Homo sapiens: one gene and its partners. The protein of the gene in region 1 interacts with the protein of each later gene in a pairwise test. Each region holds a gene or a part of one and is shown on either strand. Other genes may lie near its edges. The genes, in order: alpha-crystallin A2 chain, CRYGC, SPSB1 and PTTG1IP.

Region 1 (7,582 bases):
TTTGGTCAAGGAGAAAGTGTCATCTTTAAAACTGGCCATATTCTGAAACTTGGTTCAACTGACAAATCTAAACATTCTTCTTCTTCTTCTTTTTTTTTTTTTTTTTTTTTTTTTGAGACAGAGTCTCGCTCTGTCGCCCAGGCTGGAGTGCAGTGGCATGATCTCGGCTCACTGCAACCTCTGCCTCCTCAGTTCAGGCAGTTCTCTGCCTCAGCCTTCTAAGTAGCTGGGATTAGAGGCGCCTGCCACCATGCCCTGCTAATTTTTTGTATTTTTAGTAGAGTTGGGGTTTCACCATCTTGGCCAAGCTGATCTTGAACTCCTGACCTCGTGATCCCCCTGCCTCGGCCTTCCAAAGTGCTGGGATTACAGGCGTGAGTCACCGCGCTTGGCCATTTTCTTCTTTAGTGACCAAAATTCCTCCCCTTAGGCATTTTTGGTCATTCAGAAGGAAAATCTAAATTATGGACACTTGTGCTTCTAGAGCAGACATGCATCTGCAGAGACGGCAGCTGGATTCGTGGACAATGCTTATGGTGCCACCTTCTGTCAGTATCTAGAAACATGGTCTCACTTAACCCGTGAAGACCCCAGACTATAATAGCTAAAATGGGGCGCCTTTAAAGTAACTAGTTTATGCACTCAATAGGAAAAATCTGCATCTAAAATTTAAAAACTGAGAGAGCTATTTTTCAATGATACTTAGAAGCTTCTAAAAGAAGTTCTGATGAAGTCATTTCTTTGCAAGAAGAAAACAGAAGATTATCTGAAACTATTTCTTTTGTTTGTTTGTTTTGAGACAGAGTCTTGCTCTGTTACCCAGGCTGGAGTGCATTGGCGTGATCTTGGCTCACTGCAACCTCTGCCTCCCAGGTTCAAACGATTCTTCTGAGCTGGGATTACAGGCATCCCCCACCTTGCCTCGCAATTTTTTTTTTTTTTTTTTTGAGACAGAGTTTCATTCTTGTTGCCCAGGCTAGAGTGCAGTGGCACGATCTCAGCTTGTTGCAACCTCCCCCTCCCGGGTTCAAGCGATTCTTCTGCCTCAGCCTCCCAGTAGCTGGGATTACAGACACCCACCACCATGCCTGGCTAATGTTTTGTGTTTTTAGTAGAGACAGGGTTTCACCATGTAGGCCAGGCTGGTCTCGAACTTCTGATCTCAGGTGATCCACCAGCCTTGGCCTCCCAAAGTGCTGGGATTACAGGTGTGAGCCACCACGCCCAGCCATCCACAGTTCTTTTTAAAATTTAGAAGTAGTTTCAGGCTGGGTGAGGTGGCTCACACCTGTAATCCCAGCACTTTGGGAGGCCAAGGTGGGTGGATCACGAGGTCAGGAGTTCAAGACCAGCCTGGCCAAGATGGTGAAACCTCATCTCTATTAAAAATACAAAAATTAGCCGGGCATGGTGGCGGGCGCCTGTAATCCCAGCTACTTGGGAGGCTGAGGCAGAGAATCACATGAAACCCAGGAAGCGGAGGTTGCAGTGAGCCAAGATGGCGCCACTGTACTCCAGCCTGGGTGACAGAGTGAGACTCTGTCTCAAAACAAAAACAAAAACAAACAAACAAAAAGACCATGGAGGCTTTCTCCTGTTTGTTTCCAGCTGCTGCTTCTCCTTCTGCCTCTGGGATGATCTAAACTCATCTCTTTCTGCCTGTTCCCTCAGCTCCCATACATCTCTTAAGCAGTGTTTTTGGAATTCCACAATGCACACATTTCCTTCTCTCAAAAAGGGGAAAGTATATTTAAATTTGGAACAGACTGGGTGCGGTGGCTCACACCTGTAATCCCAGCACTTTGGGAGGCCAAATTGGGCAGATCACCTGAGGTCAGGAGTTCGAGACCAGCCTGGCCAACAGGGTGAAAACCCGTCTCTACTAAAAATAAAAAAAGATTAGCGGGGAGTGGCTGCGGGCTCCTGTAATCCCAGCTACTTGGGAGACTGAGGCAGGAGAATCACTTGAATCCGGGAGGCAGAGGTCGCAGTGAGCCGAGACGGCGCTATCGCACTCCAGCCTGGGCGACAAGAAGGAAACTGCGTCTCAAAAAAACCCAAAACAACAACAACAACAAAAATAAAAAATAAAAAATAAAAGAAATAGGCCAGAAAAGAAATGTTAGCTCAAGCCTGTAATCCCAACACTTTGGGAGGCCAAGGCTGGTGGATCACATGAGGTCAGGAGTTCAAGACCAGTCTGGCCAACATGGTGAAACCCCATCTCTACTAAAAACACATGTGGTGGCATGTACCTGTATTCCCAGCTACTCGGGAGGCTGAGGCAGGAGAATCGCTTGAACCCAGTAGGTGGAGGTTGCAGTAAGCTGAGATGGTGCCACTGCACTCCAGCCTGGGCGACAGAGCGAGATGCTGCCAAAAAGAAAAAGAAAAAGAGAAAGGAAGGGAGGGAAGGAGGGAGGGAAATTAAAAAAATAAAATGCTAACATCCAGGGAATTAGTTCAGCTGAGATCAGATCTGAAACAAGTCAAAACCCTTTAAATGCTCAAACTGCCTGCTCTGGAGCCCCTGCAGGGTTTGTCAGTGCTCCAGCCTGTGGGCCAGAGGCTATGAGTCTCTACAAACATGAGGCTATGTTTGCAGCCTGGGTTCAATTTCCAGTCCTGTTTTTTTTTTTTTTTTTTGAGACGGAGTCTTGCTGTGTTGCCCATGCTGGAGTGCAGTGGCATGATCTCGGCTCAGTGCAGCCTCCGCCTTCCAGGTTCCAGCAGTTCTCCTGCCTCAGCCTCCCGAGTAGCTGGGATTATAGGTGCCCACCACCACGCCCAGCTAATTTTTTGTATTTTTAGTACAGACAGGGTTTCACCATGTTGGCCAGGCTGGTCTTGAACTCCTGACCTCAGGTGATCTGCCTGCCTCGGCCTCCCAAAGTGCTGGGATTACAGGTGTGAGCCACCGCGCCTGGCCTTCTTTTTTTTTTTTTTTTTTTTTTGAGATGGAGTTTCGCTCTCGTCACCCAGGCTGGAGTGCAATGGCATGGTCTAAGCTCACTGCAACCTCCACCTCTCAGGTTCAGTCAATTCTTCTGCCTCAGCCTCCCAAGTAGGTGGGATTACAGGTGCTCACCACCACGCCTGGCTAATTTTTGTGTTTTTAGTAGAGATGGGGTTTCACCATGTTGGCCAGGCTGGTCTCGAACTCCTGACGTCAAGTGATCCACCCACCTCAGCTTCCCAAAGTGCTGGGATTACAGGTGTGAGCAGCAAGATTTCTTTTTCTGAGCTGTCTTTAGAGTGGTTCTGACGCTTAGGAAGACTGCTTTGCATTTCTTTGGAGATGCTTGGTTCAGCCTTGGTTAAGTCATGACCTTCGTTATGCCATTACCTTGGTTAAATCTTTGTTTTTGAGATGGAGTCTCGCTGTGTCACCCAAGCTGGAGTGCAGTGGTGCGATCTTGGCTCACTGCAACCTCTGTCTCCTGGGTTGAAGCAATTCTCCTGCCTTAGCCTCCCGAGTAGCTGGGATGACAGGTGCATGCCACCACACCTGGCTAATTTACCTTGGTTAAGTCTCACTGGTTTTGTGAGTAACTTGAAAATGTCCATTTCGTTTTTTTTTTTGAGATGGAGTTTCGCTCTCATTGCCCAGGCTGGAGTGTAAGGGATGGCCTGATCTCGGCTCACTGCAACTTCGGCCTGCCAGGTTCAAGCGGTCCTCCTGCCTCAGCCTCCCAAGTAGCTGGGATTACATGCATGCACCACCACACCTGGCTAATTTTGTATTTTTAGTAGAGACAAAGTTTCACCATGTTGGCCAGGCTGGTCTTGAACTCCTGATCTCAGGTGATCCACCCACCTTGGCCTCCCAAAGTGCTGGGATTACAGACATGAGCCACCGCACCCGGCCAAGTTTTTTCTTTTTTTATATGTAATAAGTTGGATAAAGTGTTTATAAAAAGTTAAAAGTAGGCCCTCAAGCAGGTAAAGTAGGCTTGCTTCTTTTCAGAGCTATCCATGCTGATTCCAGGCATAGAGAATGCCTCCTTTGCCCTATTCATTAAAGGGCTTCACCCTGAAGTCAGTAATCTAATAGAGAAACAAGCTAAGTTGAAAAGACCCTGTGATGGTTAATATTAGCTGTCAACCTGATTGGATTGAAGGATGGTAAAGTATTGTTCTTGGGTGTGTTGTGAGGGTGTTGCCAGAGGAAATTGACATTGGAGTCAGTGGACTGAGAGAGGAAGACCCACCCTCAGTGTGGGTGGGCACCATCCGATTGGCTGACAGTGTGGCTGGAACAAAGCAGGTGGAGGAGGGTGGGAGAAGCTGGCTTGCTGAGTCTTCTGGCTTTTGTAGCCACCCAGTGAGTTCACCTAGCCGGCTGCCTAGATGGAGCGGATTTATCAGGACAGGGGAATTGCAATGCAGAACGAGTAATTTACACAGAGCTAGCTGTGCGGGCGACTGGAGTTTTATTATTACTCAAATTAGACATCCCAAGAATTTGCAGATCAGAGTTTTTAAAGATAATTTGGCGGCTCAGGAAGTAGGAGTGCTGATTGATCTGGCTGGAGATGGAATCACAGGGAGGTCAAAGTGAGGTTTCCTTGCTGTCTTCTGTTCCTGGGTACAATGGCAGAACTGGCTGAGCCAGATAGCCGGTCTGTGTGGTATCAGCTGATCCATAGAGTACAGGGTCTTGCAGAATAAATACCTCAAGCACTGATCTTCGGATTACAATGGTGATGTTATCCCCAGGAGCAATTTCGGGAGGTTTGGACAGCCAGAGGCTGGATGACCTTTAAATCAAAATTTCTTTTTTTTTTTTTCAAAGAAGCCCCATTTTATTACAGAGAGCATACAAAGCCGTTTCCTCATAAGGAAAAGTACAGCTTCCCTTCTCCAGGGTGACAGATGAGCCTTTTCTGAAGTTCTCAGCTTTCTCTTCTATCGATATTTCCCATGTCAGTTAAAGTGTTTGTAGAGACAGCTGATGCGTTTATTGAGGTTGTGCAGCTCATCAGCAAACATTCTGTTTCCAACCATTTTCTTCTTTAGCATACAGCGTTGCAATTCATTCCCCTTCCAATCTCGAAGCCATATGGGGTCCCTGATCAGCTTTTGGGGTGCTTTTCAAAGTTTCCCAGGATCCTGATGTTGTCATACACTCTGAACATGGCCATCCTTTCGTTCCAAGGATCAACTACTTTGGGGGGTAGGAGCCTTATACCAATCAATCTAGGAATACCAAGAAAGAAGCTTCTGCATGCCACACCTAGTCCCACAGGCGCCTACCTGCCCTACATAAGAGGCTCCCTGCCATTTCTCTAGTCTGCCCCTTCAACAGCACACCAAATAAGCCCAAGAATGAGGACCAGATGTGGCCTTCAAGAAGACAACAGGAACCGTCCCTGTCGACTTCACACGGGTACTAACGTGAAGGCAGCCACCTTGGGCCTTAAAATTTCTAATCTTGTAGCTAATTTGTTACTCCTACAAAGGCAGACTGGTTCCTAGGCAAGAAGGGGATCTTTCTGGGAAATGGCTATTATCAATTTTGTTTCAGAGTCAAACTATAAGCTAAATTCCTTCCCAAGGTTAGTTGGCCTGTGCCCAGGCATGAACAAAGACAGCCTAAAGGTTAGAAGCAAGATGGAGTCAGGTAGGTCTGATCTCTTTCACTGTCATCATTTCCTCAGTTGTAATTTTTGCAGAGGCAGTTTCACTTTCATCTTTCTCCTGTGCTGGATGCCTCCTCCGTTCCCCCTGCCCTTGGACATCAGACTCCAGGTTCTTTGGCCTTTGGACTCTTGGACTTAAGCCAGTGGTTTGCTTGGGACTCTCGGGCCTTCAGCCACAGATTGAAGCCTGCACTGTTGGCTTCCCTACTTTTGAGGCTTTTGGACTCCGACTGAGCCACTCCTGGCTTCCTTCTTCTGCAGCTTGCAGACGGTGTATCATGGGACTTCACCCTGTGATGGTGTGAACTAGTTCTCCCTAATATACTCCCTTTCATATATATGTCTATTCTGTTAGTTCTGCCCCTCTGGAGAACCCTAACTAATGCAGACCCTTGTGTAACTTTGATATCCAAAATATGGCTTTCTAGCATTTAGCTGGCTATTTTGAAACTCTTTGTAAAAAAAATTTATATATATGAAGGAAATCTCCATTTGTAAGGGTGTCTCCCTCCCTGCACCCAAACTGCTAGAAACTGAAGATGGGGAAGACATTGGCTGAAGACACTGTCTTACAGTTTACATCACAGACCTTGCCTTCGGTGGAAATACTTTTCCTGGCAACCTCGTCTTCACTAGGTGTAGGGACCAGCCCCACAGGATCGGTGGGTTTTTCTCCCCATGTGCAGAGACGAGAGATTGTAGAAATAAAGACACAAGACAAAGAGATAAAAGGAAAGACAGGTGGGCCTGGGGGACCACTAACACCAAGATGCGGAGACCGGTAATGGCCCCGAATGTCTGGCTGCGTTGTTATTTATTGGATACAAAGCAAAAGGGGCAGGGTAAAGAGTGTGAGTCATCTCCAATGATAGGTAGGGTCACGTGGGTCACGTGTCCACTGGACAGGGGGCCCTTCCCTGCCTGGCAGCCAAGGCAGAGAGGGGGAGAGAGAGAGACAGCTTGCGCCATTATTTCTGCATATCAGAGACTTTTAGTACTTTCACTAATTTGCTACTGCTATCTAGAAGGCAGAGCCAGGTGTACAGGATGGAACACGAAGGCGGACTAGGAGTGTGACCACTGAAGCACAGCGTCACAGGGAGATGGTATGCCTTCGGATAACTGAAGGTGGGCCTGAGGCCCTCCACAAGAGATGGAGGAGTAGAGTCTTCTCTGAACTCCCGTGGGGAAAGGGAGACTCCCTTTCCCGGTCTGCTAAGTAGCCGGTGTTTTTCCTTGACACTGACGCTACTGCTAGACCATGGTCCGCTTGACAACAGGCGTCTTCCCAGACGCTGGCGTTACCGCTAGACCAAGGAGCCCTCTGGTGGCCCTGTCCGGGCATAACAGAAGGCTCGCATGCTTGTCTTCTGGTCACTTCTCACTATGTCCCCTCAGCTCCTGTGTCTGTATGGCCTGGTTTTTCCTAGGTTATGATTGTAGAGCGAGGATTATTGTAATATTGGAATAAAGAGTAATTGCTACAAACTAATGATTAATGATTTTCATATATAATCATGTCTATGATCTAGATCTAGTATAACTCTTGTTGTTTTATATATTTTATTATACTGGAAAAGCTCGTGCCCTCGGTCTCTTGCCTCGGCACGTAGGTGGTTTGCCGCCCACAACTAGGCTTTTACCTACACCCTTCTTCCTTGGTTTGAATTCAGCTCTGTGCTTTTGAGATGTGAATTTTTTCTACTTTGTTTCACCTCAGTCATCCCTTTAGAAGTGCCAATTTAGTGTTGCCTAGCTAACAGTTGCTTAGGGATCATGTAAAAGGGGGAAATAAAAACTATTTGAGAGCATAATCAGGTTAAGTATTAATGCTAAAACTTACTTTACAAGTTAGTTGGTCTTGCTAAGATTTCTCTTTGGTAGAAATGGGGAATTGGAGAGAAGATTCTTTATAAAAACTATAAGATCTGCTTCTGTCT
Region 2 (7,556 bases), on another chromosome or scaffold:
AGGAAAACCAGCTTCCTGTCTCTGCCCTTGCTTGTTCCTCCCCTTTCTACTTGTGGCCCCTAGCAGCCTGCAAGTAGGAAGATGACTAGAGAGTAGATTGGACAAGCTAATCTCAATTCTTCTAGAAGCATGAAGGGACCAGTTCCCTGGGGTGAGGGCAGAGTTTGCTGTATTTTATTTAGATAGACTTCTCAAAACCAGGGCAATAAGCCCTTCAGGAAGGGCTTGCTGAGGGGGTGCCGACTGGCAAAGCACCACACAAAAACCCCAGCATGATGCCTTTCCCATGTCCTCGAGGGAACTCTTGGCCTTCGCTTTAGAATTCCCCAGTGAATTTTATATTAATTTGTAGAATTGCCTTTTTATTTGCAAGGGTACTATTTTTTCCCATTTTTTAAAATTAAAATTGCAATCATATAAAAAAGAGATGCATGACTGCATAGGATACCACCGTATATTAATTGCTAAGAAGCAGGAAGGTGGGTGGTAAAATCAACTGCTGGCTGGACCTCAGACACCAGCAAAACTCTAGAATTGGCTACCGCTGTTGTAACATTAATTTCTCATCTCAGAAGAAATAAAAATTAGAATTACTAAGGAGTGGGAGGACTTAGGGCACAACACAGCATTCCTGGTTTTTCCCTTTTGCTTATTATCTCCACTGTTATAAAGGCCCATTATGGCTGGGTGTGGTGGCTAACACCTGTAATTCCAGCACTTTGGGAGGCCGAGGTGGGCAGATCCCCTGAGGTCAGGAGTTCAAGACCAGCCTGGCCAACATGGTGAAACCCTGACTCTACTAAAGGTACAAAAATTAGCTGGGCGTGGTGGCAGGCGCCTGTAATCCCAGCTACTCGGGAGGCTGAGGCAGGAGAATCTCTTGAACCCAGGAGGCAGAGGTTGCAGTGAGCCAAGATCGCACCACTGCACTCCAGCCTGGGTGACAAGAGCAAGATTTCATCTCAAAAAAAAAAAAAGAAGGCCTGGCACAGTGGCTCACTCTTGTAATCCCAGCACTTTGGGAGGCCGAGGCGGGCGGATCACAAGGTCAGGAGATCGAGACCATGGTGAAACCTCGTCTCTACTAAAAATACAAAAAATTAGCCGGGCGTGGTGGCGGGCGCCTGTAGTCCCAGCTACTCGGAGAGGCTGAGGCAGGAGAATGGCGTGAACCCTGGAGGCGGAGCTTGCAGTGAACTGAGATTGCGCCACTGCACTCCAGCCTGGGCGACACAGCGAGACTCCGCCTCAAAAAAAAAAAAAAAAGCCCCATTAAATCGATCAAGTGCAGGGTGCCTGTGTCATCCTACACACCGAAAGTTGCACATCCTGAACTTCAATGTGAGTGTGTTATGCCTGTGTATATTGAACATTTGAAACAGGCTCCATAGACCATTATAATAATAAATTTCAGACAAGGAATAACATTCACACATCCCCCCTCCCGGGCATTTATTGAGTAACCTTTATGTGCCAGTCCTCTAAGCCAATTAGTGAGAACACAAAAATAAAGATGGAATAGACTCTGCCTTTATGGGGCTCTCCCATCTATTTTGAGGGACTGATGTCTAAACAAAATAATTAGATAAGTGATAGTTACCCTTATAGTGGTATGAACATGAGGAGCCACGGAGGCAGTATTTAATTCAGCCCAGAAGATTAGGAAGGGTTCAGGAAAATCTTTTACAGACAAACTGACGCTTGAGCTGAGACTTGAAGAAAGGGTAAAATTTCTCTGGTTGAAAAATAAACTGGTGTCTCATTGAGAAGGATCAATATGTTGAAAAACAAGAACAACATGAAATAACATTGTGCATTTGGGAAATGACAAGCGGTTCGGCGTGATCAATCAGAAAGCGTGGGGACAGACAGCGGAGGCCAGGTCTAGGATGCCGCGCTAAGGGATCAATATTGGATCCTGGAGACAATGGGAGTCCATGAAATTTTTCAAGCAAATGAACAGCATGATTTGATGTGTTTTGATTCTCATCACTCCAGCATCTGTCTGAGTGCAGCTTGGAGGAAGACAACACTGGGCAGAGTCAGGAGGCTGTTGAAAGTCCAGCTGAGATATGATAAGACCCTATGTAAGGCAGCTACAATGGCAGGGGTTTGGGGGTGGGAGGTGGTTGGGGCAGAGGAGAGAAGGAGAAAGATTTGAAAAAAGGTTAGAGAAATACAAGACTACGCCATTATGGAACAAGAGCGATGTTCTGTAATATGCACTTTCTGGCCCCTTTATTGCTTTTCCTGTCTTCTTACCAGTGCTCTAATTTAAGTGCTGGTATCTCTGCTCCGATTCTCTCACTGTGTACATATGAAACTTTATAGAACAAGAAAGAGTGCTGGCCAGGCGCGGTGACTCATGCCTGTAATCCTAGCACTTTGGGAGGCCGAGGTGGGCAGATCACGAGGTCAGGAGATCGAGACCATCCTGGCTAACACGGTGAAACCCTGTCCCTACTAAAAATACAAAAAAAAAAAAAAAATTAACCAGGCGTGGTGGTGGGCGCCTGCAGTCCCAGCTACTCAGGAGGCTGAGGCAGGAGAACTGCTTGAACCCAGGAGGCGGAGGTTGCAGTGAGCTGAGATCACGCCATGGCACTCCAGCCTGGGCGACAGAGCGAGACTCCGTCTCAAAAAAAAAAAAAAAGAGTGCTACAAAACAGAGAGCACATCTGCCTTTAAGTCTAACGAGAATGTTAGGCAGGGCACAGTGACTCACGCCTGTCATCCCAGCACTTTGGGAGGCAGAGGAAAATGGATTGCTTGAGGAGATCAAGACCAGACTGGGCGACATAGTGAGACCCTGTCTCTACATAAAGAAAATACAAAACATTAGCTGGGCATGGTGGCATGCACCTGCAGTCCCAGCTACTCAAGAGACTGAGGTGGGAGCTTGAGCTTGAGCGTGGGAGGCAGAAACTGCAGTGAGCTGAGATTGTGTCCCTGCACTCTAGCCTGGACAACAGAGCAGAACTCTATCTCAAAAAATAAATAAATAGAATTAAGAGAATGCTAGTACAATTCCTAATAAGGCATTGCCTAGGGATGGCTAAAATACATGATTTCCTTGTCAAAACATGAAGGGATAAACCACAGCAGTGTTTTGGCCCAAGAACTATTTGGTGCTTATTAAAAATGTAGGTTCTGGGCTGGGCGTGGTGGCTCATGCCTGTAATCCCAGCACTTTGGGAGACCGAGGTGAGTGGATCACCTGAGGTCAGAAATTCGAGACCATCATGGCCAACATAGCAAAACCCTGTCTCCAATAAAAATACAAAAATTAGCCGGGCATGGTGACCCGCGCCTATAATCTCAGCTACTCAGGAAGCTGAGACAGAAGAATCACTTGAACCCGGGAGGCAGAGGTTGCAGTGAGCTGAGATCGCACCACTGCACTCCAGCCTGGGTAACAGAGCAAGGCTCCATCTCAAAAAATAAAATAAAATAAATAAAATAAAAAATAAAAATGTAGGTTCTGAGGTCTTCTCCTGATCTAATGATGCAGGATTTAGCCAAAAGATCAAGATGGTAATTTGCATTTTTAATAAGCAAGGTGATTCTTAGGCACACTGGAGTTTGAAAACCACCCGATGGTTTCGAAAGTCCCTTCCAAGCCTAATTTTTCTTTAATCACAAAATGGCTTCATAGAGGATAAATTTTTTCAGGAATCTTTGAGAGGATTAAATATCTTTGAGAGGGATAAACAGGATGAAGTCAGCCTTAACAATGTCACTCTATTACTAATAACAACATTTATTCAGTGTTCATTTGTGCCAAGTATGTGCCAAATGCCTTATACACATAATCCCACTTATTCATGTCAATGTCCTTTAGCTAAAGACCACCAGGGACACACCTGTCTTTAAACAAGTTGAGCTTATTACTTGTTGCAGCAAGGGAGGACATGCTCCTTGGGGAAGCATGGAGTGTCTCAGTAAGAGAGCTTAGAAAGAAATTGTTATAGGATTTGCACTTCAGTTGTGCGATTTGGGGAAGGAGCTAAAAAAGTTGGAGTTCACTCCAGATTAGATGTTAGCAGAAAGCAGGGTTAATTTTGTGATTAGTTATCTCAAGAAATCTTACCCGTAGGGAGGGGAGACTAGAACACGGATAAACCTGTAATCCATAAAGAAGTGGCAGTTAATCATTTTGGCTGAGAGAGTGAGGGCTTGGGATTTTGAGAGTGGAGCATTGACTTTGTTTTTGTCTGCGCTTAGGCAAAGTTAAGAAGTGGATTTATTTTATCTCATTTCATCCTGGTCTCGGAGTAGCCTTGTCTGAAGTTGTTATTCTGTGAGACTGTTTATGTCTAATAGCGGAGTAACATGTCCTCACTGCGAGTGCCACGCCAGCATCTGAATGTCAGAGGCTACTCTTTTTTCTCACTTTTTTTCTCATTAATCAGACTATAGTCCATGAGATAACTCCTGCTCTGAGTGGTTATATAATTTGCCATGGAGCTAATCAGTGGGCCTTCTGAGTACAGGCGGCCTGAGTCCAAAGCTCACACTCTTGCCCGTGAAGCTTTATGGCCTCCCTCACGCTTGAAAAAGGGAAAGCAATCTATAAAGTAGTATACGGTACTTCTCAGTCTTGGGCCCAGTGACCATAGAAACCTTTCCCTTGCTTGTTATCGTAAGTTCACTACCAGGGACTGATCTCTAGTTAGACGACGTGCCCACGAAAGGCATAGTTAAAAGCTGTCTTAAAGCATTGGGTTAACGAAGTCAAAACTAGCCAAGATAAGAATCTAGATTTGTGTCCGGCCCTGGACTGGAAAATTGTGTAAAGACAAAAATGTAAGGTAGAGCAGTCTCTGCCATCCAGGGAAATGAGTCAGTGCTTGTGGCATTCTACCTCAGCAACCTCTCTGGAATCCTGGAGCAATTCTATAATGGCATAGATCTTTCCCAGAAAATTCACAGGGAATAATTCAATCATATAGACAGAGCCACGAATTTCAGGTCAAAAGTTCAGACTGATGCACAGATAAATTTAGAAAACACTAACAATCCAAATAAAAGCAACACAGAGCAGTATGTACAGGACAGCGTTAGAATATACCAGAGAACAAGGACACAATCTACAATCATTTCCAGTGAATGCAGGATGTTAAAGAGATGCATAAAATCCCCTTACCGCTGAGGGCCCCTTTTGTGTTGTTCTTGCCAACGCAGCAGCCATCCTGCTATATAGACTGGCTGTGCAGCCGCAGGCCCCATCACACTGAACTCGCATCATCCGTGTCAACCAGCCATGGGGAAGGTGAGCAGAACACAAATTAAATAAAATGAAAAAAAAGTTGCCTTTATATAATGCCTGTTAGGAGCAAATAATGTAATTCGGAACGATTCTTCCTTTGCAGATCACCTTCTATGAGGACAGGGCCTTCCAGGGCCGCAGCTACGAAACCACCACTGACTGCCCCAACCTGCAGCCGTATTTCAGCCGCTGCAACTCCATCCGGGTGGAGAGCGGCTGCTGGATGCTCTATGAGCGTCCCAACTACCAAGGTCAACAATACTTGCTGCGGCGAGGGGAGTACCCCGACTACCAGCAATGGATGGGCCTCAGCGACTCCATCCGCTCCTGTTGTCTCATCCCCCAAGTGAGTTTTCTAGATTTCCATCATGCCGCCAGAGTCCCCACTGTATTGTCAATGTGGGTTACAGGGAGGGAGGTTTGCATTTAAAAACACCTAAGGGTTAGATGGACATCAGAGACCTGAATAAGCCAGATAGATAACATGCACAAAAACAGCAGAGAATGTAAGGAAGAACCCACTTAGAGGAAGAATCCGTTTTACTTGAAATTTTTGCTACCAATAAGTCAATTAAAAGAGGTCTGTAACAAATGTAATATCATAATGGGATATAAAACAAAACTTGCAAATGGGAAGCTGGTTGGGCATAAAAAGACGGTATTTTTAACAAATTATTTTGTCTATAGTAAAAGAATTTCTAATGAATGAATTAGATAGATTCCACCATGGACTAGTAAACCTTCAAAGCTGTATTGTTAATATAGGCTATTCAAAGGTTGTGTCCAACTTTGGAAAAGGTAATTTTTCTTAATTTGGAAAATCAGTTAAATTCTCATTCCAAATGACTATTTAACTTTACACTGAAGTACAAGATTTTTTAAATCTTACTTTAGTGGTAAATTTATATGTTTGTAAATTTGGGAGATAATACCCTTACTAAAAGAATACTAGTGAAAATAAATTATTTCTATTTTTCCCCCCAAATGTAGTTTGAATTAACACAGGTAATTAGGAATCAAGATATCTCAGTTCTTGATGGATTCTAACTCAGAGTTTGAACCTCTTAAAAATTCCATCTCCTAAATAAGAATGAATTTCAGGTCAAATAGAAAATGAGCGTGCCAGTATTTAGGTGCTAGTGGAAGACAGATCCATGCGCAGCAACCACAGTAATCTACATTTTACACTGTCTAAATTTTACAATGACAATTCCATGCCACAACCTACCAAGTTCATCTGTTCTTTGGTTGGACAAATTCTGGAAGAGACTCATTTGCTTTTTTCCATCCTTCTTTCTGTGGACCGAGTAGACAGTCTCCCACAGGCTGCGGCTGTACGAGAGGGAAGACCACAAAGGCCTCATGATGGAGCTGAGTGAAGACTGCCCCAGCATCCAGGACCGCTTCCACCTCAGCGAGATCCGTTCCCTCCACGTGCTGGAGGGCTGCTGGGTCCTCTACGAGCTGCCCAACTACCGGGGGCGGCAATACCTGCTGAGGCCCCAAGAGTACAGGCGGTGCCAGGACTGGGGGGCCATGGATGCTAAGGCAGGCTCTTTGCGGAGAGTGGTGGATTTGTATTAAAATAGCTTAACACTACCAATTTCCCATTTTGGAACCTAATAAATATTTAGTCTGCATTGCTGGCAATTGCTGACTTCTGTCATTCTTTCATTGTGCAAATCAGTTCACCTTTAAATGCTCCTTGTCAAAAGTTAAGAAGTGAATGGGGTGGGGGACGGGGTCTATTGGAGAAGAGCTTCAAGGTAGAGTGAGTTTGAACAAGCCTCAGACGTTGGGGTGGAGGCAGGGTGTAGCCTGCCCGAGAAAGAAAACGCAGGGCAATGCCAGAGACCTGGGAGAGGCTGACTGGTGAGAAGGGAGGCATTCAACTAAGCACCTTGAGGAACAATAGTTGGGAAGTTTCCTTCTAACCAAAAATGGGTTAGACAAAAGGCAAAGTCAGATGAGTGGAGAGGGCAAACTTAACTTGGCCAACAGCCTGATTAGACTATATAAAGGATTGTAGTTTTGTTTACTTTCAGACACAGTATTATATAACTAATGCCAGGGCCACCGCAGCCATTGCCGTACCTTTGAACAAAGTTAAAGACTATTCATCTTCTTTTGAAAATGACTCCTGTCCAGAAGTGTAGCTCTTGGTCGGTACTACCCCTGGCCCAAATGCTGTGTCAATTATAGAAACTGCACATCAGTTTCATGGTGACCAGCTATTGCAAATAAATTAATATTAAGAGATACACATCAATCTTTTAAATAGATTTTC
Region 3 (7,535 bases), on another chromosome or scaffold:
ACCCACTTCTCAGGGTCCTCAGGAAGCCCATGAGTCAATGCGTCAAGGACTCAGATCAGAGCCAGTACTCGCACGCACCGTGAAACCATGAAACCATTTCCCGCTATTATTATGCTTAGGATTCAAACAAAGTCACGTCCATAAAGCACTCTGTAGCACAGAGCCGGGCACCTGGCTGCCAGTGGAACTTTAGACTGGGGGAGATGTTATCAGATAACTGGGGGAGGGGAGAGCACTCACTGAAAGTCCAAAATCGAAGTCCCTTAGAGTCTGGATTTCACTGATCTAGTGTTGAGGGCTGGGGAGAGGATAACACACCCCTGGGCAGACTGAGGCACACCTGTACCTGACCTTGTGCTGTCGTCTGATAAAATTTTTCAGAACCAAAAGATACACTGAGTCATGCACACCAGCTACAACCTATTTCTCGAGAAAAATTGATACAAAATGCCCAGACGAACTCATGAACACCGTAAGAATCAGAGGTTTCGCTGAATTTGAAAATGCGTCTGCAGGCAAGTTTCCATCCACCCAGGAGGAGGGGCAGGTGCAGGAAGGGAGCACGGCACACACCATGGGGGTGGGAGGGCAGCGCTGGCTTCCACGGGCTAGGCCCCCACCCCATTCCCCAGCTCTGGTGAAGAAATTCAACATCTGTGATGATTCCAAGGGGGTGAGATTCTGCAGCAGCCCAGAGGGACCCACTGAAGGGTGGATCCAGCCTTACTACAGCAGCCCAAGAAACGGCCTCACCCAGCTCCAAAGTGACATCACCAGGGCCCCAGGCAGGCCCACCCCTTCCTAAGAGCCCTGAAACCCACTGATTCTTCCCAGGGCCAGGTCTCTCTTAAGCCGGCATGGCACCCGCCTTGCTCCCTGCTCGGGGCTGTCTGAGCCACTGGGGCCAACATGCTACTGCTTTTGTTTTCTCTGCTGCTAGGGTGGTAGCCAGACTGGAAAAGGAAGACTTGTAAAGTGATTGCCTTAGTCCACTCCACACCTCCCCAACCGCACGCGCGCACACACACACACACACACACACACTCACACTCTCACACACACACACACACTCCATCTACTGGGTAAAGTGCTCCCTGCAGAAGAAAAGCAGCTGTAAGAGAGCAGGAGTGCTTTAAATGATCTAATCCAGCCCATCACTTCACAGCTGGGGAGACACGAAGTGCCTGGCCCATGACCTCAGTGCTGGGGACAGTAACCAAGAGCAACAGTTTCAGGACTGGGGAGTCTTGGTCCACAGCCCTGGCTGTGCAGTCTGGGTAAGTGAACCGCCCTCTCTGGGCCTCTCTAGGACAGGCTGGCCTAGACAGTAAGACAGGACTTCCCTGACTCCAAAATTCCTCAGTGTGGAGAGACCACCTGTGCTGCCCATGCTTAGCCCAGGGCTTTCCACCACTGGGAGGGGGGTCTGAGGAGGGGGACAGGGCAGAAGGGAGAGGCCCCCATCCCCTTCCTTGCTTGCTGTTCTCCTCACACCCCACGATGAGAAATGAAGTTGTGGGCCCAGCCCCCCCAACGAGAAAATTCTTCCAAGGACATCAAACCTTAGTCACCAGGGATGGCGCTTTTACCATGAACACCTGTTAAAACTCAACTCATGACCAGTTTCTGATGCTACAGACTGGAGTGTTTAATTAAATATTACTCACTCAGGAAGCAGCCCCTGCCAACTCACCCCCAAACTGTGTAGTTCATTTTCAGAGAAATGGAGAGAGGAAGAGCCTGCGCTCTCCTCGGGGGCACCAGCAGGGCTTGCCTAGTGGGGTGTCTGTGGCCCAGCATGCCCGGCTATCCAGAACCAAGTAAAGAAATCACCATGAGGAGCAGTACCTAGGAACCAGAGGGCCCCCTGGATGGTCCCCACACACACTCACAGAGAAACACACACAAAGACACACAGACACACACTTGGAGACACACAGACACTCACACATACACAGACGCACTCAGAGACACAGACACAGAGACAGACACAGAGACACGTGTGGACACACAAAGAGACACAAAGACACACACACGCAAAGACACACACAGACACAAAGACACAGAGACACACATTTGCAGAGACAGACACTCAGAGACACAAACTTGCAGAGACACACACCCAAAGACACATACACACTCACACACAGACACACACAAAGACACACAGACATACACAGAGAGGCACACACAAATACACAAAGACGCACTCAGACACACACACACACACACAGTCACTTAGAGTCTCAGGCACACATTGACAGACACACAGACTCACACACACACTCAGAGGCACATAAATACACAGATGCACTTAGAGACACACTCACACACACACCCACATGAACACACAGACACACTCATACGCAGGCACATATTCACAAGGACATGCACAAACACACACGCAGATGCACTCTCAGAGACACCCGCTCTTCCTGCAGACCCGCACCCTCCTCTCGGGGCCGTCCCGTCCTCACCGGAACCTGGACGCCACCGAGCCCAGTACACGCCCGGGGACGGTGACCCATCCGCGGTTCCTCCCGCGGGCCCAGGCCGCCCTTGTTTTTCTGATTTAATCGATTTCCTGACAACCCTCCGGCTCTCCCTCCGCTGCTGGGAGAAGCCGCGGCGGCTCCGGGGCGGCGGGGAGGGCGGCGCTCGGGTGTCCCCGGCAGGCTCCCTGGGGGAGGCGCTGCGGGAGGGTGGGGGCGCCCCGACGGGGGACCGGGCCGCGCCGCCAATCCCGACTCGGACTGGCGGGAAAAGCGAAACTAACTCAGCCGAGCGGGGTCCCGCTTTCCCCGGGCTAAAGGGGGGACGGGTCGGCGGCCCCGGAGCGCCCCAGCCCCTCCTCGGGACCGCAACTCGTTGCGACGGTCCCCGCGCCCCGAGACCCCCGCCGCGCCTCGCCCCGGGACCCCCTGCCCTGCAGCGGCGGCAGCGCGGGGCGGGCCTGGGCCCCTCTCCCAGGAGCCGCGGCGAGGGAGGCGCCCCCGGAGCCACCGCGGGAGGGGCCGCGCCCCGAGTCCCCATCCCGTACTCCACCCGCTCCCCCGCGCCCGGCCCCGCGCCACCCACTCGGTCCCCCAGCGGCGCGATCCCCGCGTCCGCCCTCGCCCGGCCCCCCGCGCCTCCCCCTCCCGGGCCGGTCGCCCACCCATCGGGGTCCCAGGTGCCCCGCGCCGCCTACCGCGCCCGGGGTGCCGCCGCCGCCGCTGCTCTCCAAGGCCGAGGAGGCTCGGGCGCCCGGGCCGCGCCCGCCGCAGGGAGCGAAGTCGCCTCCTCCCCGCGGCCCCGGCCCCGGCGCCGGCGCCTGGAGCCTGGTTCCTGCTGCGAGCGCGCAGGCTGCCCGAGCGCGACTTCTGTGCGGAGGAGAAAAAGCAACCGACGGCTTTAAAGTGAAAAAAAAGAGAAAAGCGCCGGTGGGCGGGGCCGTCCCTGCCCCGCCCCGCCCCGCCCCGCCCCCGACCTCGGGCGCACGGACCACTCAGCACTGCAGGGAAGGCCGGGGGCGCGGGGCGCGGGGCGCGGGGCGCGTCAGCCCGGCGCTGGTTCGGCCGCCCCCTCCGCCCCCTTAGTCCGCAGCCCTCTCCCGAGCCGCCGCCCTGGTGTTGCCGGCCCGAAGCTCGGGTCCCTCCGGAGGCGTCTTTGGGAAACGCGTGGCGCAGGGCCTGGGTTGCAGCCGTGGGAGGCTGGAGTGGGGGCGGGGGTCTTACGAGAAGGAGAAATCTTCGCGGAGAGTGGGGTTGTCCCAGGAACCCCGAGCAAGGCCTCGCCGGCCTCCTCTGAAGTGCCCAGCGGGGACGAGTGGGCAGCCGCCGGGGGTCCAGGGAGCCTCCTGCAGCGCTGTTTCGGCCGCTCGCGTTTCGGTGCCCACGGGGACGGGGGCCTCGGACCTCGAGACCCTGAGGGCGCGGGCACCTGGCATCCGCAGGGCTGCTCCCTGAACAGGTCCCAGCCTCTGGGGACTTGTCCTGTGGCTCTAGCTCGTTCAAGGAATTTTCCTCCCCCTTCCCCGAACAGAGCAGTCACTTGGGACTGGGAAGATTTTAAAGACTTTGCTGTTTTGAGAGCAAAATCTCCTGGCATTCCCCACCCCTCGCTGTGTAGTGTCCATTGAAAACGGTGAGGAGTTAGCCTTTCTGGGGGAGCCGAAACAAATAGCGGGGCTTCCGTAGTTACTGTGTCTTTACCATAACCCAGTACAGTGAGGGTGGGACTAATGACACACTCACTGTAAAGGCGAGGAAACAGTGCCTGGCCCGAGGCCAGCTGTCCAGAGCTTGGAACCCAATTGAACTGTGAGATTACAAAGTTTGATGTCTCTCATTTTACGGTGCTGAAAATCAGTTTGGTTTAGCTTTGTTTGAACTCAGAATAGGATTACGGAGACTCAACCAACTGCCCTGGGCTGGGCGGGCCTGAGTGGGCATTCTGACTTTCCAGGTGCCAGCGGTTTAGGAATGTTGAACCCAGACTAGTCAGGTGGGCAGCCATGGCCAGCAGCTTAGGGGTGCTTCCCATTTAAAAGATCACTTGAGGCTGGAGGTGGTGGCTCTCACGCCCTTAATCCCCACACTTTGGGTGGCTGAGGCAGGCAGATCACTTAAGCCCAGGAGTTCAAGAGCAGCCCGGGCAACAGAGCAAGACACAGACTCTGCACAAAAATTAAATAATAATAATAATAATTGGCCGGGCATGATGGCTCACACCTGTAATCCCAGCGCTTTGGGAGGCTGAGGCAGGTGGATCACCTGAGGTCAGAAGTTCAGGACCAGGCTGGGCTTGGTGGCTCACACCTGTAATCCCAGCACTTTGGGAGGTCGAGGCGGGCGGATCACGAGGTCAGGAGATGGAGACCATCCTGGCTAACACGATGAAACCCGTCACTACTACAAATATAAAAAATTAGCCAGGCGTGGTGGCGGGCATCTGTAAGTCCCAGCTACTTGGGAGGCTGAGGCAGGAGAATGGTGTGAACCCGGGAGGCAGAGATTGCAGTGAGCCGAGATTGCGCCACTGCACTCCAGCCCAGGTGACAGAGCGAGACTCCGTCTCACAAAAAAAAAAAAAAAAAAAAAAAAAGAAGTTCAGGACCAGCCTGGCCAACATGGCAACACTCCATCTCTACTGAAAATGCAAAAATTAGCTGGGTGTGGTGGTACGTGCCTGCGATCCCAGCTACTCGGGAGGCTGAGGCAGGAGAATCTCTTGAACCCAGGAGGCAGAGGTTGCAGTGAGCCGACATCGCACCACTGCACTCCAGCCTGGGCAACAGAGCGAGACTCCATCTCAAAAAAAAAGAAAAAAAAGGTAATAATAATTTTAAAAGAGCATATGACCCCCTCCAGCCACTCTGCAGTTTGAGAACTGTTGTTTACTTGGGAGACTGGTGAGAGCCTCTGGGACAGGCCCATGGGGTGCAGCCCACGTCAGTCATTGCTGAAAATCACAGCTGCCTCTGATGGGTTCATTTCTCCTTGGGAGAGTAGCCCTGTTTGGTGGATTATTCACTGTGTGTGTGGCATCTACCAGACACTGGCATCTCATGGGGCTGGTGCTACGGCCACGTGGCCTGGGGCCATGGTGTTGTCAGCTTTGCTAAGAGGAACTCCACCAAGCCTCACCTCTTAACATCTGGGAAGCTTCCAGGGCAGACTGGGGCACTTTGGAGCTAGAGACCCAGCTTTGATGTTTAAGGCCCTGAAAGACAGTTCCTGATGAAAAGTCTTCAGCACCCCCACCCCACCCCCCTTCGGCGTTAATCTGGAAATCTCAGCTCTTGATCCAGTTGAATAATTAGACCCTGCTGACCTAAATTTCCCAGAAGAACCCCTGGGGAGTGGGCCTTCTCTCCTCCAGGACGCTGGGCAGGTTGGCCGGATGATGGAAGGCTGGTCAGCCGGCAGTGACTGCTGCAGCATGGGGCAATGTTGAGCAATCCTGGAAGCCAGTTTATGTGTCAGAAGGGCTCAGAATCACCCTAGCATGCTGATACTATTGTTTGTTAAAAAAAGATACATAATCTTGCAACATTGTGACATAAGCTGATAGATACTATCCAAAAATTTGAAGGGTGACTCAGGACTTATACAAAGATCTGTGTACTGCAGGGGTGAGTCGGGAGGGAGGTGGCTCTGGGCTCCCAGTGGTGTCATCCCCAACCCCCTCCCCAACTCCACCCCACCCCCACACACATTTTATCACTTGCATCAGCACAATTTGCTCATGTCTTTAATCTGTCTCCGGGAAATGGTGAAGAGAAACTTGATAGATGGTGAATTAGCATCAGCTGCTTTTTCTGATGATGGTTCTGAGCCTTGAGCTCTTAGCACAGAATCCTGCTGCCCTCACAAGTGTTAAAGGCTGCCATCTTCTCTGAATCCCTTTTGCTGATTGGAGCAAATGTGCAAAGGATTTGGTAATAGACAAACCCAATGCAACCCCCAGCTCTGCTATTCATCAGCTGTGTGACCTTGAGCAAGTTACTTAACCTTTCTGAGATTTCCTGTTCTCATCTGTAGAACTGCTCTACACATTTCCCCAGAAACTGGGGAGGTGGTGCAATCATTCAACCAACATTAACTGAACACAATTAATTGTGCTAGAATGAAATCAAGGATTTTGAGAATTTTCAAGATAATAGGTTTTTTTTTTAAAGAAAAGCTTGGTATCCACAACACAGAATTGTAGCAAGATCCACCAGAACATGAAGAACACTGAAGCATATTAATAAAATCTACATCTATTATGCATCCTTAGCATAAGATGTGTACTTATCTCATGATGCAAAACAGAAGTAGAGTGTTTATATGTTAATTAAAAAAAAAAAATAGAGGCAGGGTCTTACCATGTTGCCCAGGCTGGTCTTGAACTTCTGGGCTCAAGTGATCTTCTTGCCGTGGCCTCCCGAAGTACTGGGATTATAGGCATGAGCCATCACAGCTGACTTCTCGCAGAATTTTGATCTCATAATATTCCCTAATTTAGTACATTGATTCATTTTGTAGATCATTTGGTCATAAATTACTGTAGTGCTCACACTGGATCACATCTTGTCAGACAGCGACGCCTGCTGGCAAAGCATGATATTGCACTATAGCTCTATCAGACTTTGTTAATCACGAATAAAGGAAAAGACTAAGAGCAAAGTTTTGGGGAGATTTAAATGAGACATTAGATGATAAACAGGCTTGGAAAGAGTTCCTATGACTTTGAGAAAAAAATAATAAAGAGATGATATTGGGTTTGGGACAATAACTATTGCAAAGTTCTTCAAAAACACAGTGAAGTAACAGCAGACTGTGATATTGGTGCCTATCTTAAATCTTCACCAGTTGCTTTTAACAGTATTTCAGTTTATTTCTATCCATGGGACATCTTGAATATACATTATAATATAATTAATTAATTTTAATAGTATTAATGTAGTAAAACTCCATTAAACAATCAAAGTGAAACCCCCTCCAAGTATTTATTATTTGGCCCTTCAGTATTTATTTTTATTAAAAATTTAGGAACCTAATGAATAAATA
Region 4 (7,819 bases), about 38 Mb from region 1:
CACATTCCAGCTCGCAGCCTATGCCCCTTCCCTATTTGGTATTAAGCAACTTCCTCTTTTCCTTTGTCTTTCCATTACTTTTACCTATTTAGAAAAGTTTTAAACTGTTAGCCAATCGGGTTTTAGTTTAGATTGTGAGGTCTGGCTCCAGCCAATGGAGACAGGACACAGTAGCAGGGCCAAACAGCGGCAGGGATGAAAATGGCTTCCCTCCTTTGTTCAGGTGTGCTCTCGCCATTGTTCCATCTGTGATGAGCACCCCTTCTGCAGAAAGTAAAAATGGCCTTGCTGAGAGAATTAAATTTATGTTCGAGTGCTGTGTCTTTGCAGCACTTGGGAACAAGCATTCTGTTTCTAAATAACAATTTTTACATATAACAGTGTTTTAGGAACCCCTAAAGCATCTCCACCACTTTCATGTATTATACAAATAATAGAATGGAAGGTTATAATTTGTATGCCCCAAAGGCGGAGCATTAGCAAGGTCACGTTTGATCATTTCAAATGTTGGTGTATTTTCTTCTGACCACTCTAAAGTCCTGGCATGTCCTGTTTTTAGAGAGCGTATAAGGACTGAGCTTTAAAGAAAAGTTTGGGATCCAATTTCTATAATATCCTGCCAGTCCTCCACATCCTTTTGTTTCTTGGTTGTTGGTGGTGGAAAGCTAAAATTCCTTTCAGTCTATCTAGATTAGTAGAAAGTCTTTCTTTAGATATTAAGTGGCCCAAGTACTTTGTTTTTTATAAAATTGAGGTTTTTCTTTAGGAATTTTATGTCCCTTTAGGGCTGTTGTAATGAATGTATCCCATCTTCTATAAAAGCTTTGCTTATCTTCTGAGCAAAGGAGTAAACTGCCCATGTATTGTAATAAAAAATTTTTTTTAAGAACAAGTCAAAAGACTGGGCCCAGTGCCTCGCGCCTGTAATTCCAACACTCTGGGAGGTTGCAGTGGGCGGATCACCTGGGGTTCAGAGTTTGAGACCAGCCTGACCAACATGGAGAAACTCCATCTCTACTAAAAATACGAAATTAGCCAGGCATGGTGGCGCATGCCTGTAATCTCAGCTACTCGGGAGACTGAGGTGGGAGAATTGCTTGAACCCGGGAGGCAGAGGTTGCAGTGAGCCGAGGTAGCGCCATTGCACTCCAGCCTGGACAACAAGAGCGAAACTCCGTCAAAAAAAAAAAAAAAAGAACAAGTCAGTATGTAAGACAACTGTCTTTGCATCAGTTGGACTCTCAGTGTAGCCCTGAGCATGGCTGTCTGTGTGTATTGTCTGCCTTCCCAAGTAAAGGTAAAGAGAAATCAACACTTTCACACACAGAACTACTGAAGGATGTGCTAATAAGTCCACTACACTAAAGGACTTTGATCGGGGTAGCCAAGAGGATTCTTCCAGTATCAGTGGAAGACTCTGACCATATTTGATCAAGTACTGCCTTTAGTAGGTTTTGTAATTCTTCATTATTCAATAATTCAGTGTCTTCTAGGGCAATTAGGGATCGCAATTGGGTTAGATTTTGAAACTTTTTTTATGTCTAGTAACTCAGCTTTCTCATCTAATTCTAAATACGTCTTCCCCCTTTGGGAGAAAGAAACGTGGATATTGTAATTCTAAGAAGTCTCCTTTTATAAGATGGCTGGCAGCTGATAGAACCAGAAGGAAAATGTGAGTCCCTTGTAAAGGACCTAGTTGAAAAGCTATAGGCTGAGATTTACGTGCCGTTACAGGCGTATTAGTGACACCTACCCTTTGAACTTTTTTTTGACTCCAAGGAATGGAACCTTGTAACAAGATGGGATTTATTACAGAAAACACGGCTGCTCTATCAGCAAAAGCTTATGTCAGCAATGGGAACTCGTGTTAACTATTTTAAATAATTTTTATGGCCAGGCGTGGTGGCTCACGCCTGTAATCCCAGCACTTTGGGAGGCTGAGGCAGGTGGATCACAAGGTCAGGAGTTCAAGACCAACCTGGCCAATATGGTGAAACCCCATTTCTACTAAAAATACAAAAATTAGCCGGGCGTGGTGGTGCGTGCCTGTGGTCTCAGCTGCTCGGGAGGCTGAGGCAGAGGAGTCGCTTGAACCTGGGAGGCGGAGGTTGCAGTGAGCCAAGATTGAGCCATTGCACTCCAGCCTGCGCAACAGAGCGAGACTCCGTCTCAAAAAAAAAAAAATTATTTTTCCCAAAGTAGAGGCAGGGTCACACACTCGGGTATTTAAATTCTCTGGGAAAACCAGTGGGGTCCTGGTGAGCATCAGGAAATTCCTTGATTATACTTTTAAGTTCTACCTTTGACCATAACTCATGAACTAGGGCACATAGTTGTCCCCTATGAGAGACACTGGCTGTTTGAGCAATGGCCCCAAAACAGGAGGAGGAGGAGGAAGAAAGGTGGGTCTGGGCGAGGTAATTCAGACAACAAAGGATAAAGAGAAGGAGCTGAGGGAGGAGGGGGAGAAATTTCAGTAGTCTTTTTTAAATTCAGAAATTATTTTAGATAATTTTTGTTTTTCTCTCATAAATACCTTTATTAGAACTTCTTTTGGATGCTTCCAACTACCATAAAAAATAACTCTCCCAAAGATTCCGTTTTATCCTAGAGCCAGCGTTTTCCAATTGAGCAAACAAGTAAATTACCTTGGTGTTCCAATGGTACCCGGCTTTGGTCACTGAAATGTTTTTTCTCAAGTTACGTGAGACCATTTTTCTAAATATAACGAGAGGTGGCACCATAAGCACTGCACAGGAAACCAGCTGGAGTTTCCAAAGATGGGTCCTCCCTGAAGGAGAAAGACTTGTTTTGGATGGACGATTGCCTATGAGTTCTCTTAAGTGACAAAAGACTGTAAGGGAAAATCTGGTTACTCAAGAAGAAAGTTTAGACATGTCAAATTGAACTCAGCTCCAGAGCCTGGCCAGTTTTAAGGATTACAAATTTTGCTTAAGCCACGATTCGCTGCTTCTTTTCAAAGAGAAACTGCTTTCCCCTTCTCCAAATCTGAAGGACAAAAAAGGTTGCAAACTTTAGCAAGACGAACAAAACCTTAACCTCGAAGGATAGTGTTAACCACACACCTGCAAACAGCTGACTCTTTGGAGAAATAACAAACGAAACTCTTGCCTTAAAACCAAGCCTCAACTCCAGCCCTATCAGGTGTGGACCTGGGTAGGCGGAACAGAGTCTGAACCTCAGCCCTGGGAGGCTGCCAGAGACCCCGGCCAGGTTCCCAGGCGGTCCGGTGAACCAAGGCCGCTCCGCGGGTGCCAGCGCTCCGAGTGCCAGAGAAGTGGCTCGGATCACAAGAGGCTGGCTTCGGAGCCATCTGCAGGCGCCCAAATCCCAACCTAAAATCACCACAGGGTCAGAATCTAATGTAAGGGGGGGTTATTCAAAGGCAGTTGGAGGCTGGCCCACCCGGAAACACCGGCTCCAGAGGAATGGAGTCCGCCCTCGGAAGCGGGGAGGGGAAGGGTGCCCTCGGGCAGGCAGAGGCGGAGGCTTTTAGCAGGACCGCGGCGTCCTTCCTACGAGGTGGGCGCAGTCCTCGCGTTTGATGGACGACGGGCAGTGCCTGCTTCAGGGAAGGGTGCGGCAGTCACGGTTTCCCGTCTTCTGGTCTAAGCAGTGCAGAAAACAGGGAAGTTCATCTACAAGGGTCATGAACTAAGAAGGCAGGAGGTTTCTGTCCCCGGCACCGGCGAATCCCGGACCCGAGAAAGGAGCTACGGGCGCACAGAAGCGGGCGGCCCCGGCTCTCGCGGGGCTTAAAGCGCGCAGTGTGTTCGGGTTCACACCTCTAAATGTATTTTTGCCATTTCTTAAGTAGCCTTAAAAATGTCCGTCACTATTTAGTCCTTTTATCAACCGAGGGGCCCGGAAGGCCGCAGCGAGGGCGTCGGCGAGAAGCCATGGAGGAGAAACGGCGCTTCTCTCGGGAGTTTAGGTGGCAGCTTCAGCAGCACACGTTTCAGCCCATTCTGGGGCCGTTTCTAGTGTGGTTAACGTACAAAAATAAACAAATCCCCTAAAAGTCCCACGCGGACATCGGCGGGAGCCCAGGGCCGGACGCCGCGGTGTGGAGCGAGGGCGCCGGCGCGGACTATGAGGGCCCACCGCGCCTCGTCCAGGGCTCACTTAAGAGCAGCGTGAGCAGCGCTTGGGACCGCCGTCCGGGACGCCCGCAGCCCTTTAGGATGGAGGCCACCGTGACCTCCGCCACCGAAGCACCGCGCTCCCCTAGTCCCCTCAGCCGGTCGCCGTTCCCCGCCGCGCAGGCGCAGGAGCCGCGGCGAGCCCCTCGGTCACGCCTCGCCCCTCGGTCACGCCTCGCCCCTCGGTCACGCCTCGCCCCTCGGTCACGCCTCGCCCCTCGGTCACGCCTCGCCCCTCGGTCACGCCTCGCCCATCCGCGCCGCGCAGGCGCACTGAGCCTCAGCCGCTCTCCTCGCTACCAGGCTCCTTTCCTCTATCGCGCAGGCGCACTGAACCTCAGCCGCGCCGGGAGGCGAGCCCGTTGGCGAGGGGCGGGGCAGATGGCGAGGGAGCGGGGCGAGCTGCTTTTTGAGGCTGCGCACTCGCATGGCCCCACCTCGCAGGTCCACTTCCGGCGCCGCGGCTGTTCCGGGCGGAGACCGCTTGTGCTGGAGTCGGAGTTGTAACGCTCCACTGACTGATAGAGCGACCGGCCGACCATGGCGCCCGGAGTGGCCCGCGGGCCGACGCCGTACTGGAGGTTGCGCCTCGGTGGCGCCGCGCTGCTCCTGCTGCTCATCCCGGTGGCCGCCGCGCAGGAGCCTCCCGGAGCTGGTGAGGGCGCCGGGGCGGGCGGGGCCGCGAAGGGGGCGGGGCGGCTGGTGGGTCCAGGTCGGGGTCGGGGTCGGGGTTTCGGCCAGGGCGCTGGGCTCGGCGGGCGGCCTGGGCCCACGGTCGCAGGCAGCGCCCCGACGGAGGCTCCTCGAGGGTCACGCCCGTTTGGCGGCCGCGGGAGCTGCCGTCGCGGCTGGGGCGCGGGCAGGGGAAGAGCCGTCTTTGTCTTTGTCTTTGTTTTGTCCAGTCGCTGCGGCCGCTCCTCGCGCGTGGCCTCGGGTTGGCCCTCGCCCGGCAGGCGGGACGCTTGGCACCTGCGGCCTCCCTTAGCCTCACTGCGACCCCAAACAGCACTCCTCGGGTTCGATCCCGAGCCGGGAAGCCGGCTCACGACGTGTTCGAGGTCGCACAGCTGGTCGGGGGCAGGCCGGGATGGCGGCCGCAGGCCCCTGCAGGGTGATGGGGCCGCGGCCGGTGTGTCTCTACAGCCGCCGGCGTTCACGCCGCCACTCCCTCCCGGCCGCAGTTCCACGCACAGCAGCGAACGCTCGCACTTATGCCTTAGAAAGGAAGGCGTCCCCAAAGCCAGGCTGTAGCATCTGATTTTGAAGCAAGCTGATTGCGGTTCTACGCTGTCCAGACGCGCAGGTGGCATTCTTCATCGTTTATCCCGTCTGCACCAGGCCCTGCGGCCACAGTGGTGACCGACAGCCAGAGCTCCTATCCAAGAGGAGCTGAGTCCCCGGGAGGCTGACCAAGAAAGAAGCAGTGAGGGCGCGGGGGCTGGGGGAGGAAAGTGCATGACAGGAGACTCAGAGTTCCAGAAACCGGCAGTGTTTATAGAGGGTGGCTTCCTGTGGGGCTGGGCCTCCAGGGCCTGGTGGGCTGCGGGAAAATCCAGCAGGTTCTAAGCTGGAGAGTGTCATGGTTGGACCTGTTTCACAATGTCATGCTGGCTTCCGTGTGTGGAGTTTCCAGGTGACCACTAGTGGTGGGGAATAGTGCCACCTTAACTTCAGTTTCCTGACCCTTACAATTAGGGTTGACCTGGGCCCAGCTTGAGGGGCTAATACTTTTCTCAGCTCTTGTTAGCCCAGGCTCTGTCAGTGTCTGTTTAGCATAGTAGAGCACCTTTTCTTTTTGTGACCTTATGGAATGTTTATTCCGATGCAGGATTATTTGTGTTTCTTCTTACCTGCCTCCAAGTGTGCTTAGGGTTTGTGACGTTAGCAATGCAGCTGCCTTGAAGTTTGTTAGTCAAGGAGGCCAGTGGGACTGTACTGGGAACTTTTGGCCCAGATTGAGTTCTAAGCGCAAATGTGCAGTGAATACGTTTCCACAAACAGAATGGGCGTCTGCAGGCAGAGTGTGTGATTCACTGGCAACTGTATCAGTGGCTCGGGGGTGTGTTTGCTTGCATTGTGAAAGCGGGAGTGTCAGGAAAACAACCATGAGGTTTTGTTTGACTGTGATTCCTCCTGCTCTGCACTGCTGAAGGGTGCAGAGATGGGTGTGGACGAGTGGAGTGGACAGTGTGGGAATTAATCCGGAACTGCCATTCGGTGTGTCAGCTGAAAAGCCATTCGGTGTGTCTGCACTTGGAGGCTGCACTTGCTTGCTTCCACTTATGGTAATCACCAAGTCCTGGTGGGTGGACTGTTGTTTCTCTCACTGGGGACCCCTTGGAATAGGAAGAATGGTGCCGTGTCATGTTGGCATTCACTGCCCAGGCGCCTTTGGTGTCTGCGTGCCCCTTGTCCTTGGAGAGAGGGGCTATTTATAGCCTGGAGAACTCCCCTCTTCCCACAGAGTACTTGCTTGGTGTGAGATTTTTACTGCTTGTCATGGTTACAGGAATGTGACCGCAGTACTGATGTTTAAAACGTTTTGTCTCCTTTACAAGGACACTGTGTGAATTTAGAGAATACATTATACCAATCCAAATCCAACACTTTTAAGCATCTTTTTATGTGTTTTGATGGAGGAGAGACATTAAGAACCCATGGTGTATTGAAGATCTTTAGAGCAAGATTCTTGAAGTTAAACCTGGATAGGGCTTTTGGACCCCACTTTATTTGTGTATGGGGTCAGACTCAATCCAAGAGCTTCATCTGGAGGAAAGACGACCCCAAAAAGGAGCTCAGACTGCTGTGTGAGGGCTGGCGCAGTGGTGGCCAGTGCAGGTCCCCGAGGTGGTGGGTCCCACTCAGCTGCTCCTTACAGTGGGGACTCCTGATGTGGAGTTCTGCCCCTGTCACCCTGAGAAACGTGGCTTTCTAACTGTACAGAGTGCTACAGTGTACATAGGGTTCACAGTGTTGATACATACTCCTAGTCTTCAACTCTTTCTTTTGAAATAGTGGAGTTTCCAAGAACATTTTTTTGTCTCCATATCTGCCCTCTTTTCTCACCTGGAATTGACAATGTAGTTGTTCTCCATGCCTCTGTCACAGTGCAGAGTGGGCACCATGCCCGTTTGGCTGCTCGTTCTGCTGATGAGCATGGAGACTGCAGCCTGTGGCCTGCGGTGTGACAGGAGCATGACAAGGAAATACGTACACTTGCTGGTGTGTTCCTTTGTCCTTAGTGTGTTTATTGACTCACCTGAAACTTCAGGAAAGCACTCAAATGGGTCATGGAGGGTTGGTGTATCCTGACAGAAGAAAACGTTATTTGTTGTTGTTGTTTTTTCCTTTAATTTCGGAAACAAATGAGACTGAAAGGTCTTTAAAAATTGATAAATGGAGTCTAAGTTGAAGCCTTGCAGTCATAGGACCCAGAAGTCAGGGCAGTCACATTCAGTGTTAGACTTAAGCAACACAAGGGCAGTTTTTATCTCTGGTTTTCTAGCACATGTTTTTTCTGTATCTTGTGATGAGATAAGAGATAGTGATCACTTAGAGAAATAAACACTGCTTGTCTTTGAAGCAGTAACAAATGATTCATGCCTTTCTTTTTTTTTTTTTTTTTTTTTTTGAGATGGAGTCTTGCCCTGTTGCCC

What was found.
Region 2: the proteins of alpha-crystallin A2 chain (region 1) and CRYGC interact in binary tests that used the Homo sapiens proteins (3 or more experiments, as listed by UniProt).
Region 3: the proteins of alpha-crystallin A2 chain (region 1) and SPSB1 interact in binary tests that used the Homo sapiens proteins (3 or more experiments, as listed by UniProt).
Region 4: the proteins of alpha-crystallin A2 chain (region 1) and PTTG1IP interact in binary tests that used the Homo sapiens proteins (3 or more experiments, as listed by UniProt).

Annotation. Positions count from the first base shown.
Region 1 is NC_000021.9:6,502,106-6,509,687, forward strand, and holds part of alpha-crystallin A2 chain, read left to right. Parts: intron 1-4,697; exon of another isoform or gene 4,698-5,284; intron 5,285-7,582. UniProt on the Homo sapiens protein: Contributes to the transparency and refractive index of the lens. In its oxidized form (absence of intramolecular disulfide bond), acts as a chaperone, preventing aggregation of various proteins under a wide range of stress conditions.
Region 2 is NC_000002.12:208,127,500-208,135,055, reverse strand, and holds CRYGC (gamma-crystallin C), read left to right. Parts: upstream 1-5,227; 5' UTR 5,228-5,263; coding exon 5,264-5,272; intron 5,273-5,372; coding exon 5,373-5,615; intron 5,616-6,580; coding exon 6,581-6,853; 3' UTR 6,854-6,919; downstream 6,920-7,556. UniProt on the Homo sapiens protein: Crystallins are the dominant structural components of the vertebrate eye lens.
Region 3 is NC_000001.11:9,288,727-9,296,261, reverse strand, and holds the start of SPSB1 (SPRY domain-containing SOCS box protein 1), read right to left. Parts: upstream 3,369-7,535; 5' UTR 3,191-3,368; intron 1-3,190. UniProt on the Homo sapiens protein: Substrate recognition component of a SCF-like ECS (Elongin BC-CUL2/5-SOCS-box protein) E3 ubiquitin-protein ligase complex which mediates the ubiquitination and subsequent proteasomal degradation of target proteins.
Region 4 is NC_000021.9:44,870,501-44,878,319, reverse strand, and holds the start of PTTG1IP (pituitary tumor-transforming gene 1 protein-interacting protein isoform 1 precursor), read left to right. Parts: upstream 1-4,629; 5' UTR 4,630-4,703; coding exon 4,704-4,818; intron 4,819-7,819. UniProt on the Homo sapiens protein: May facilitate PTTG1 nuclear translocation.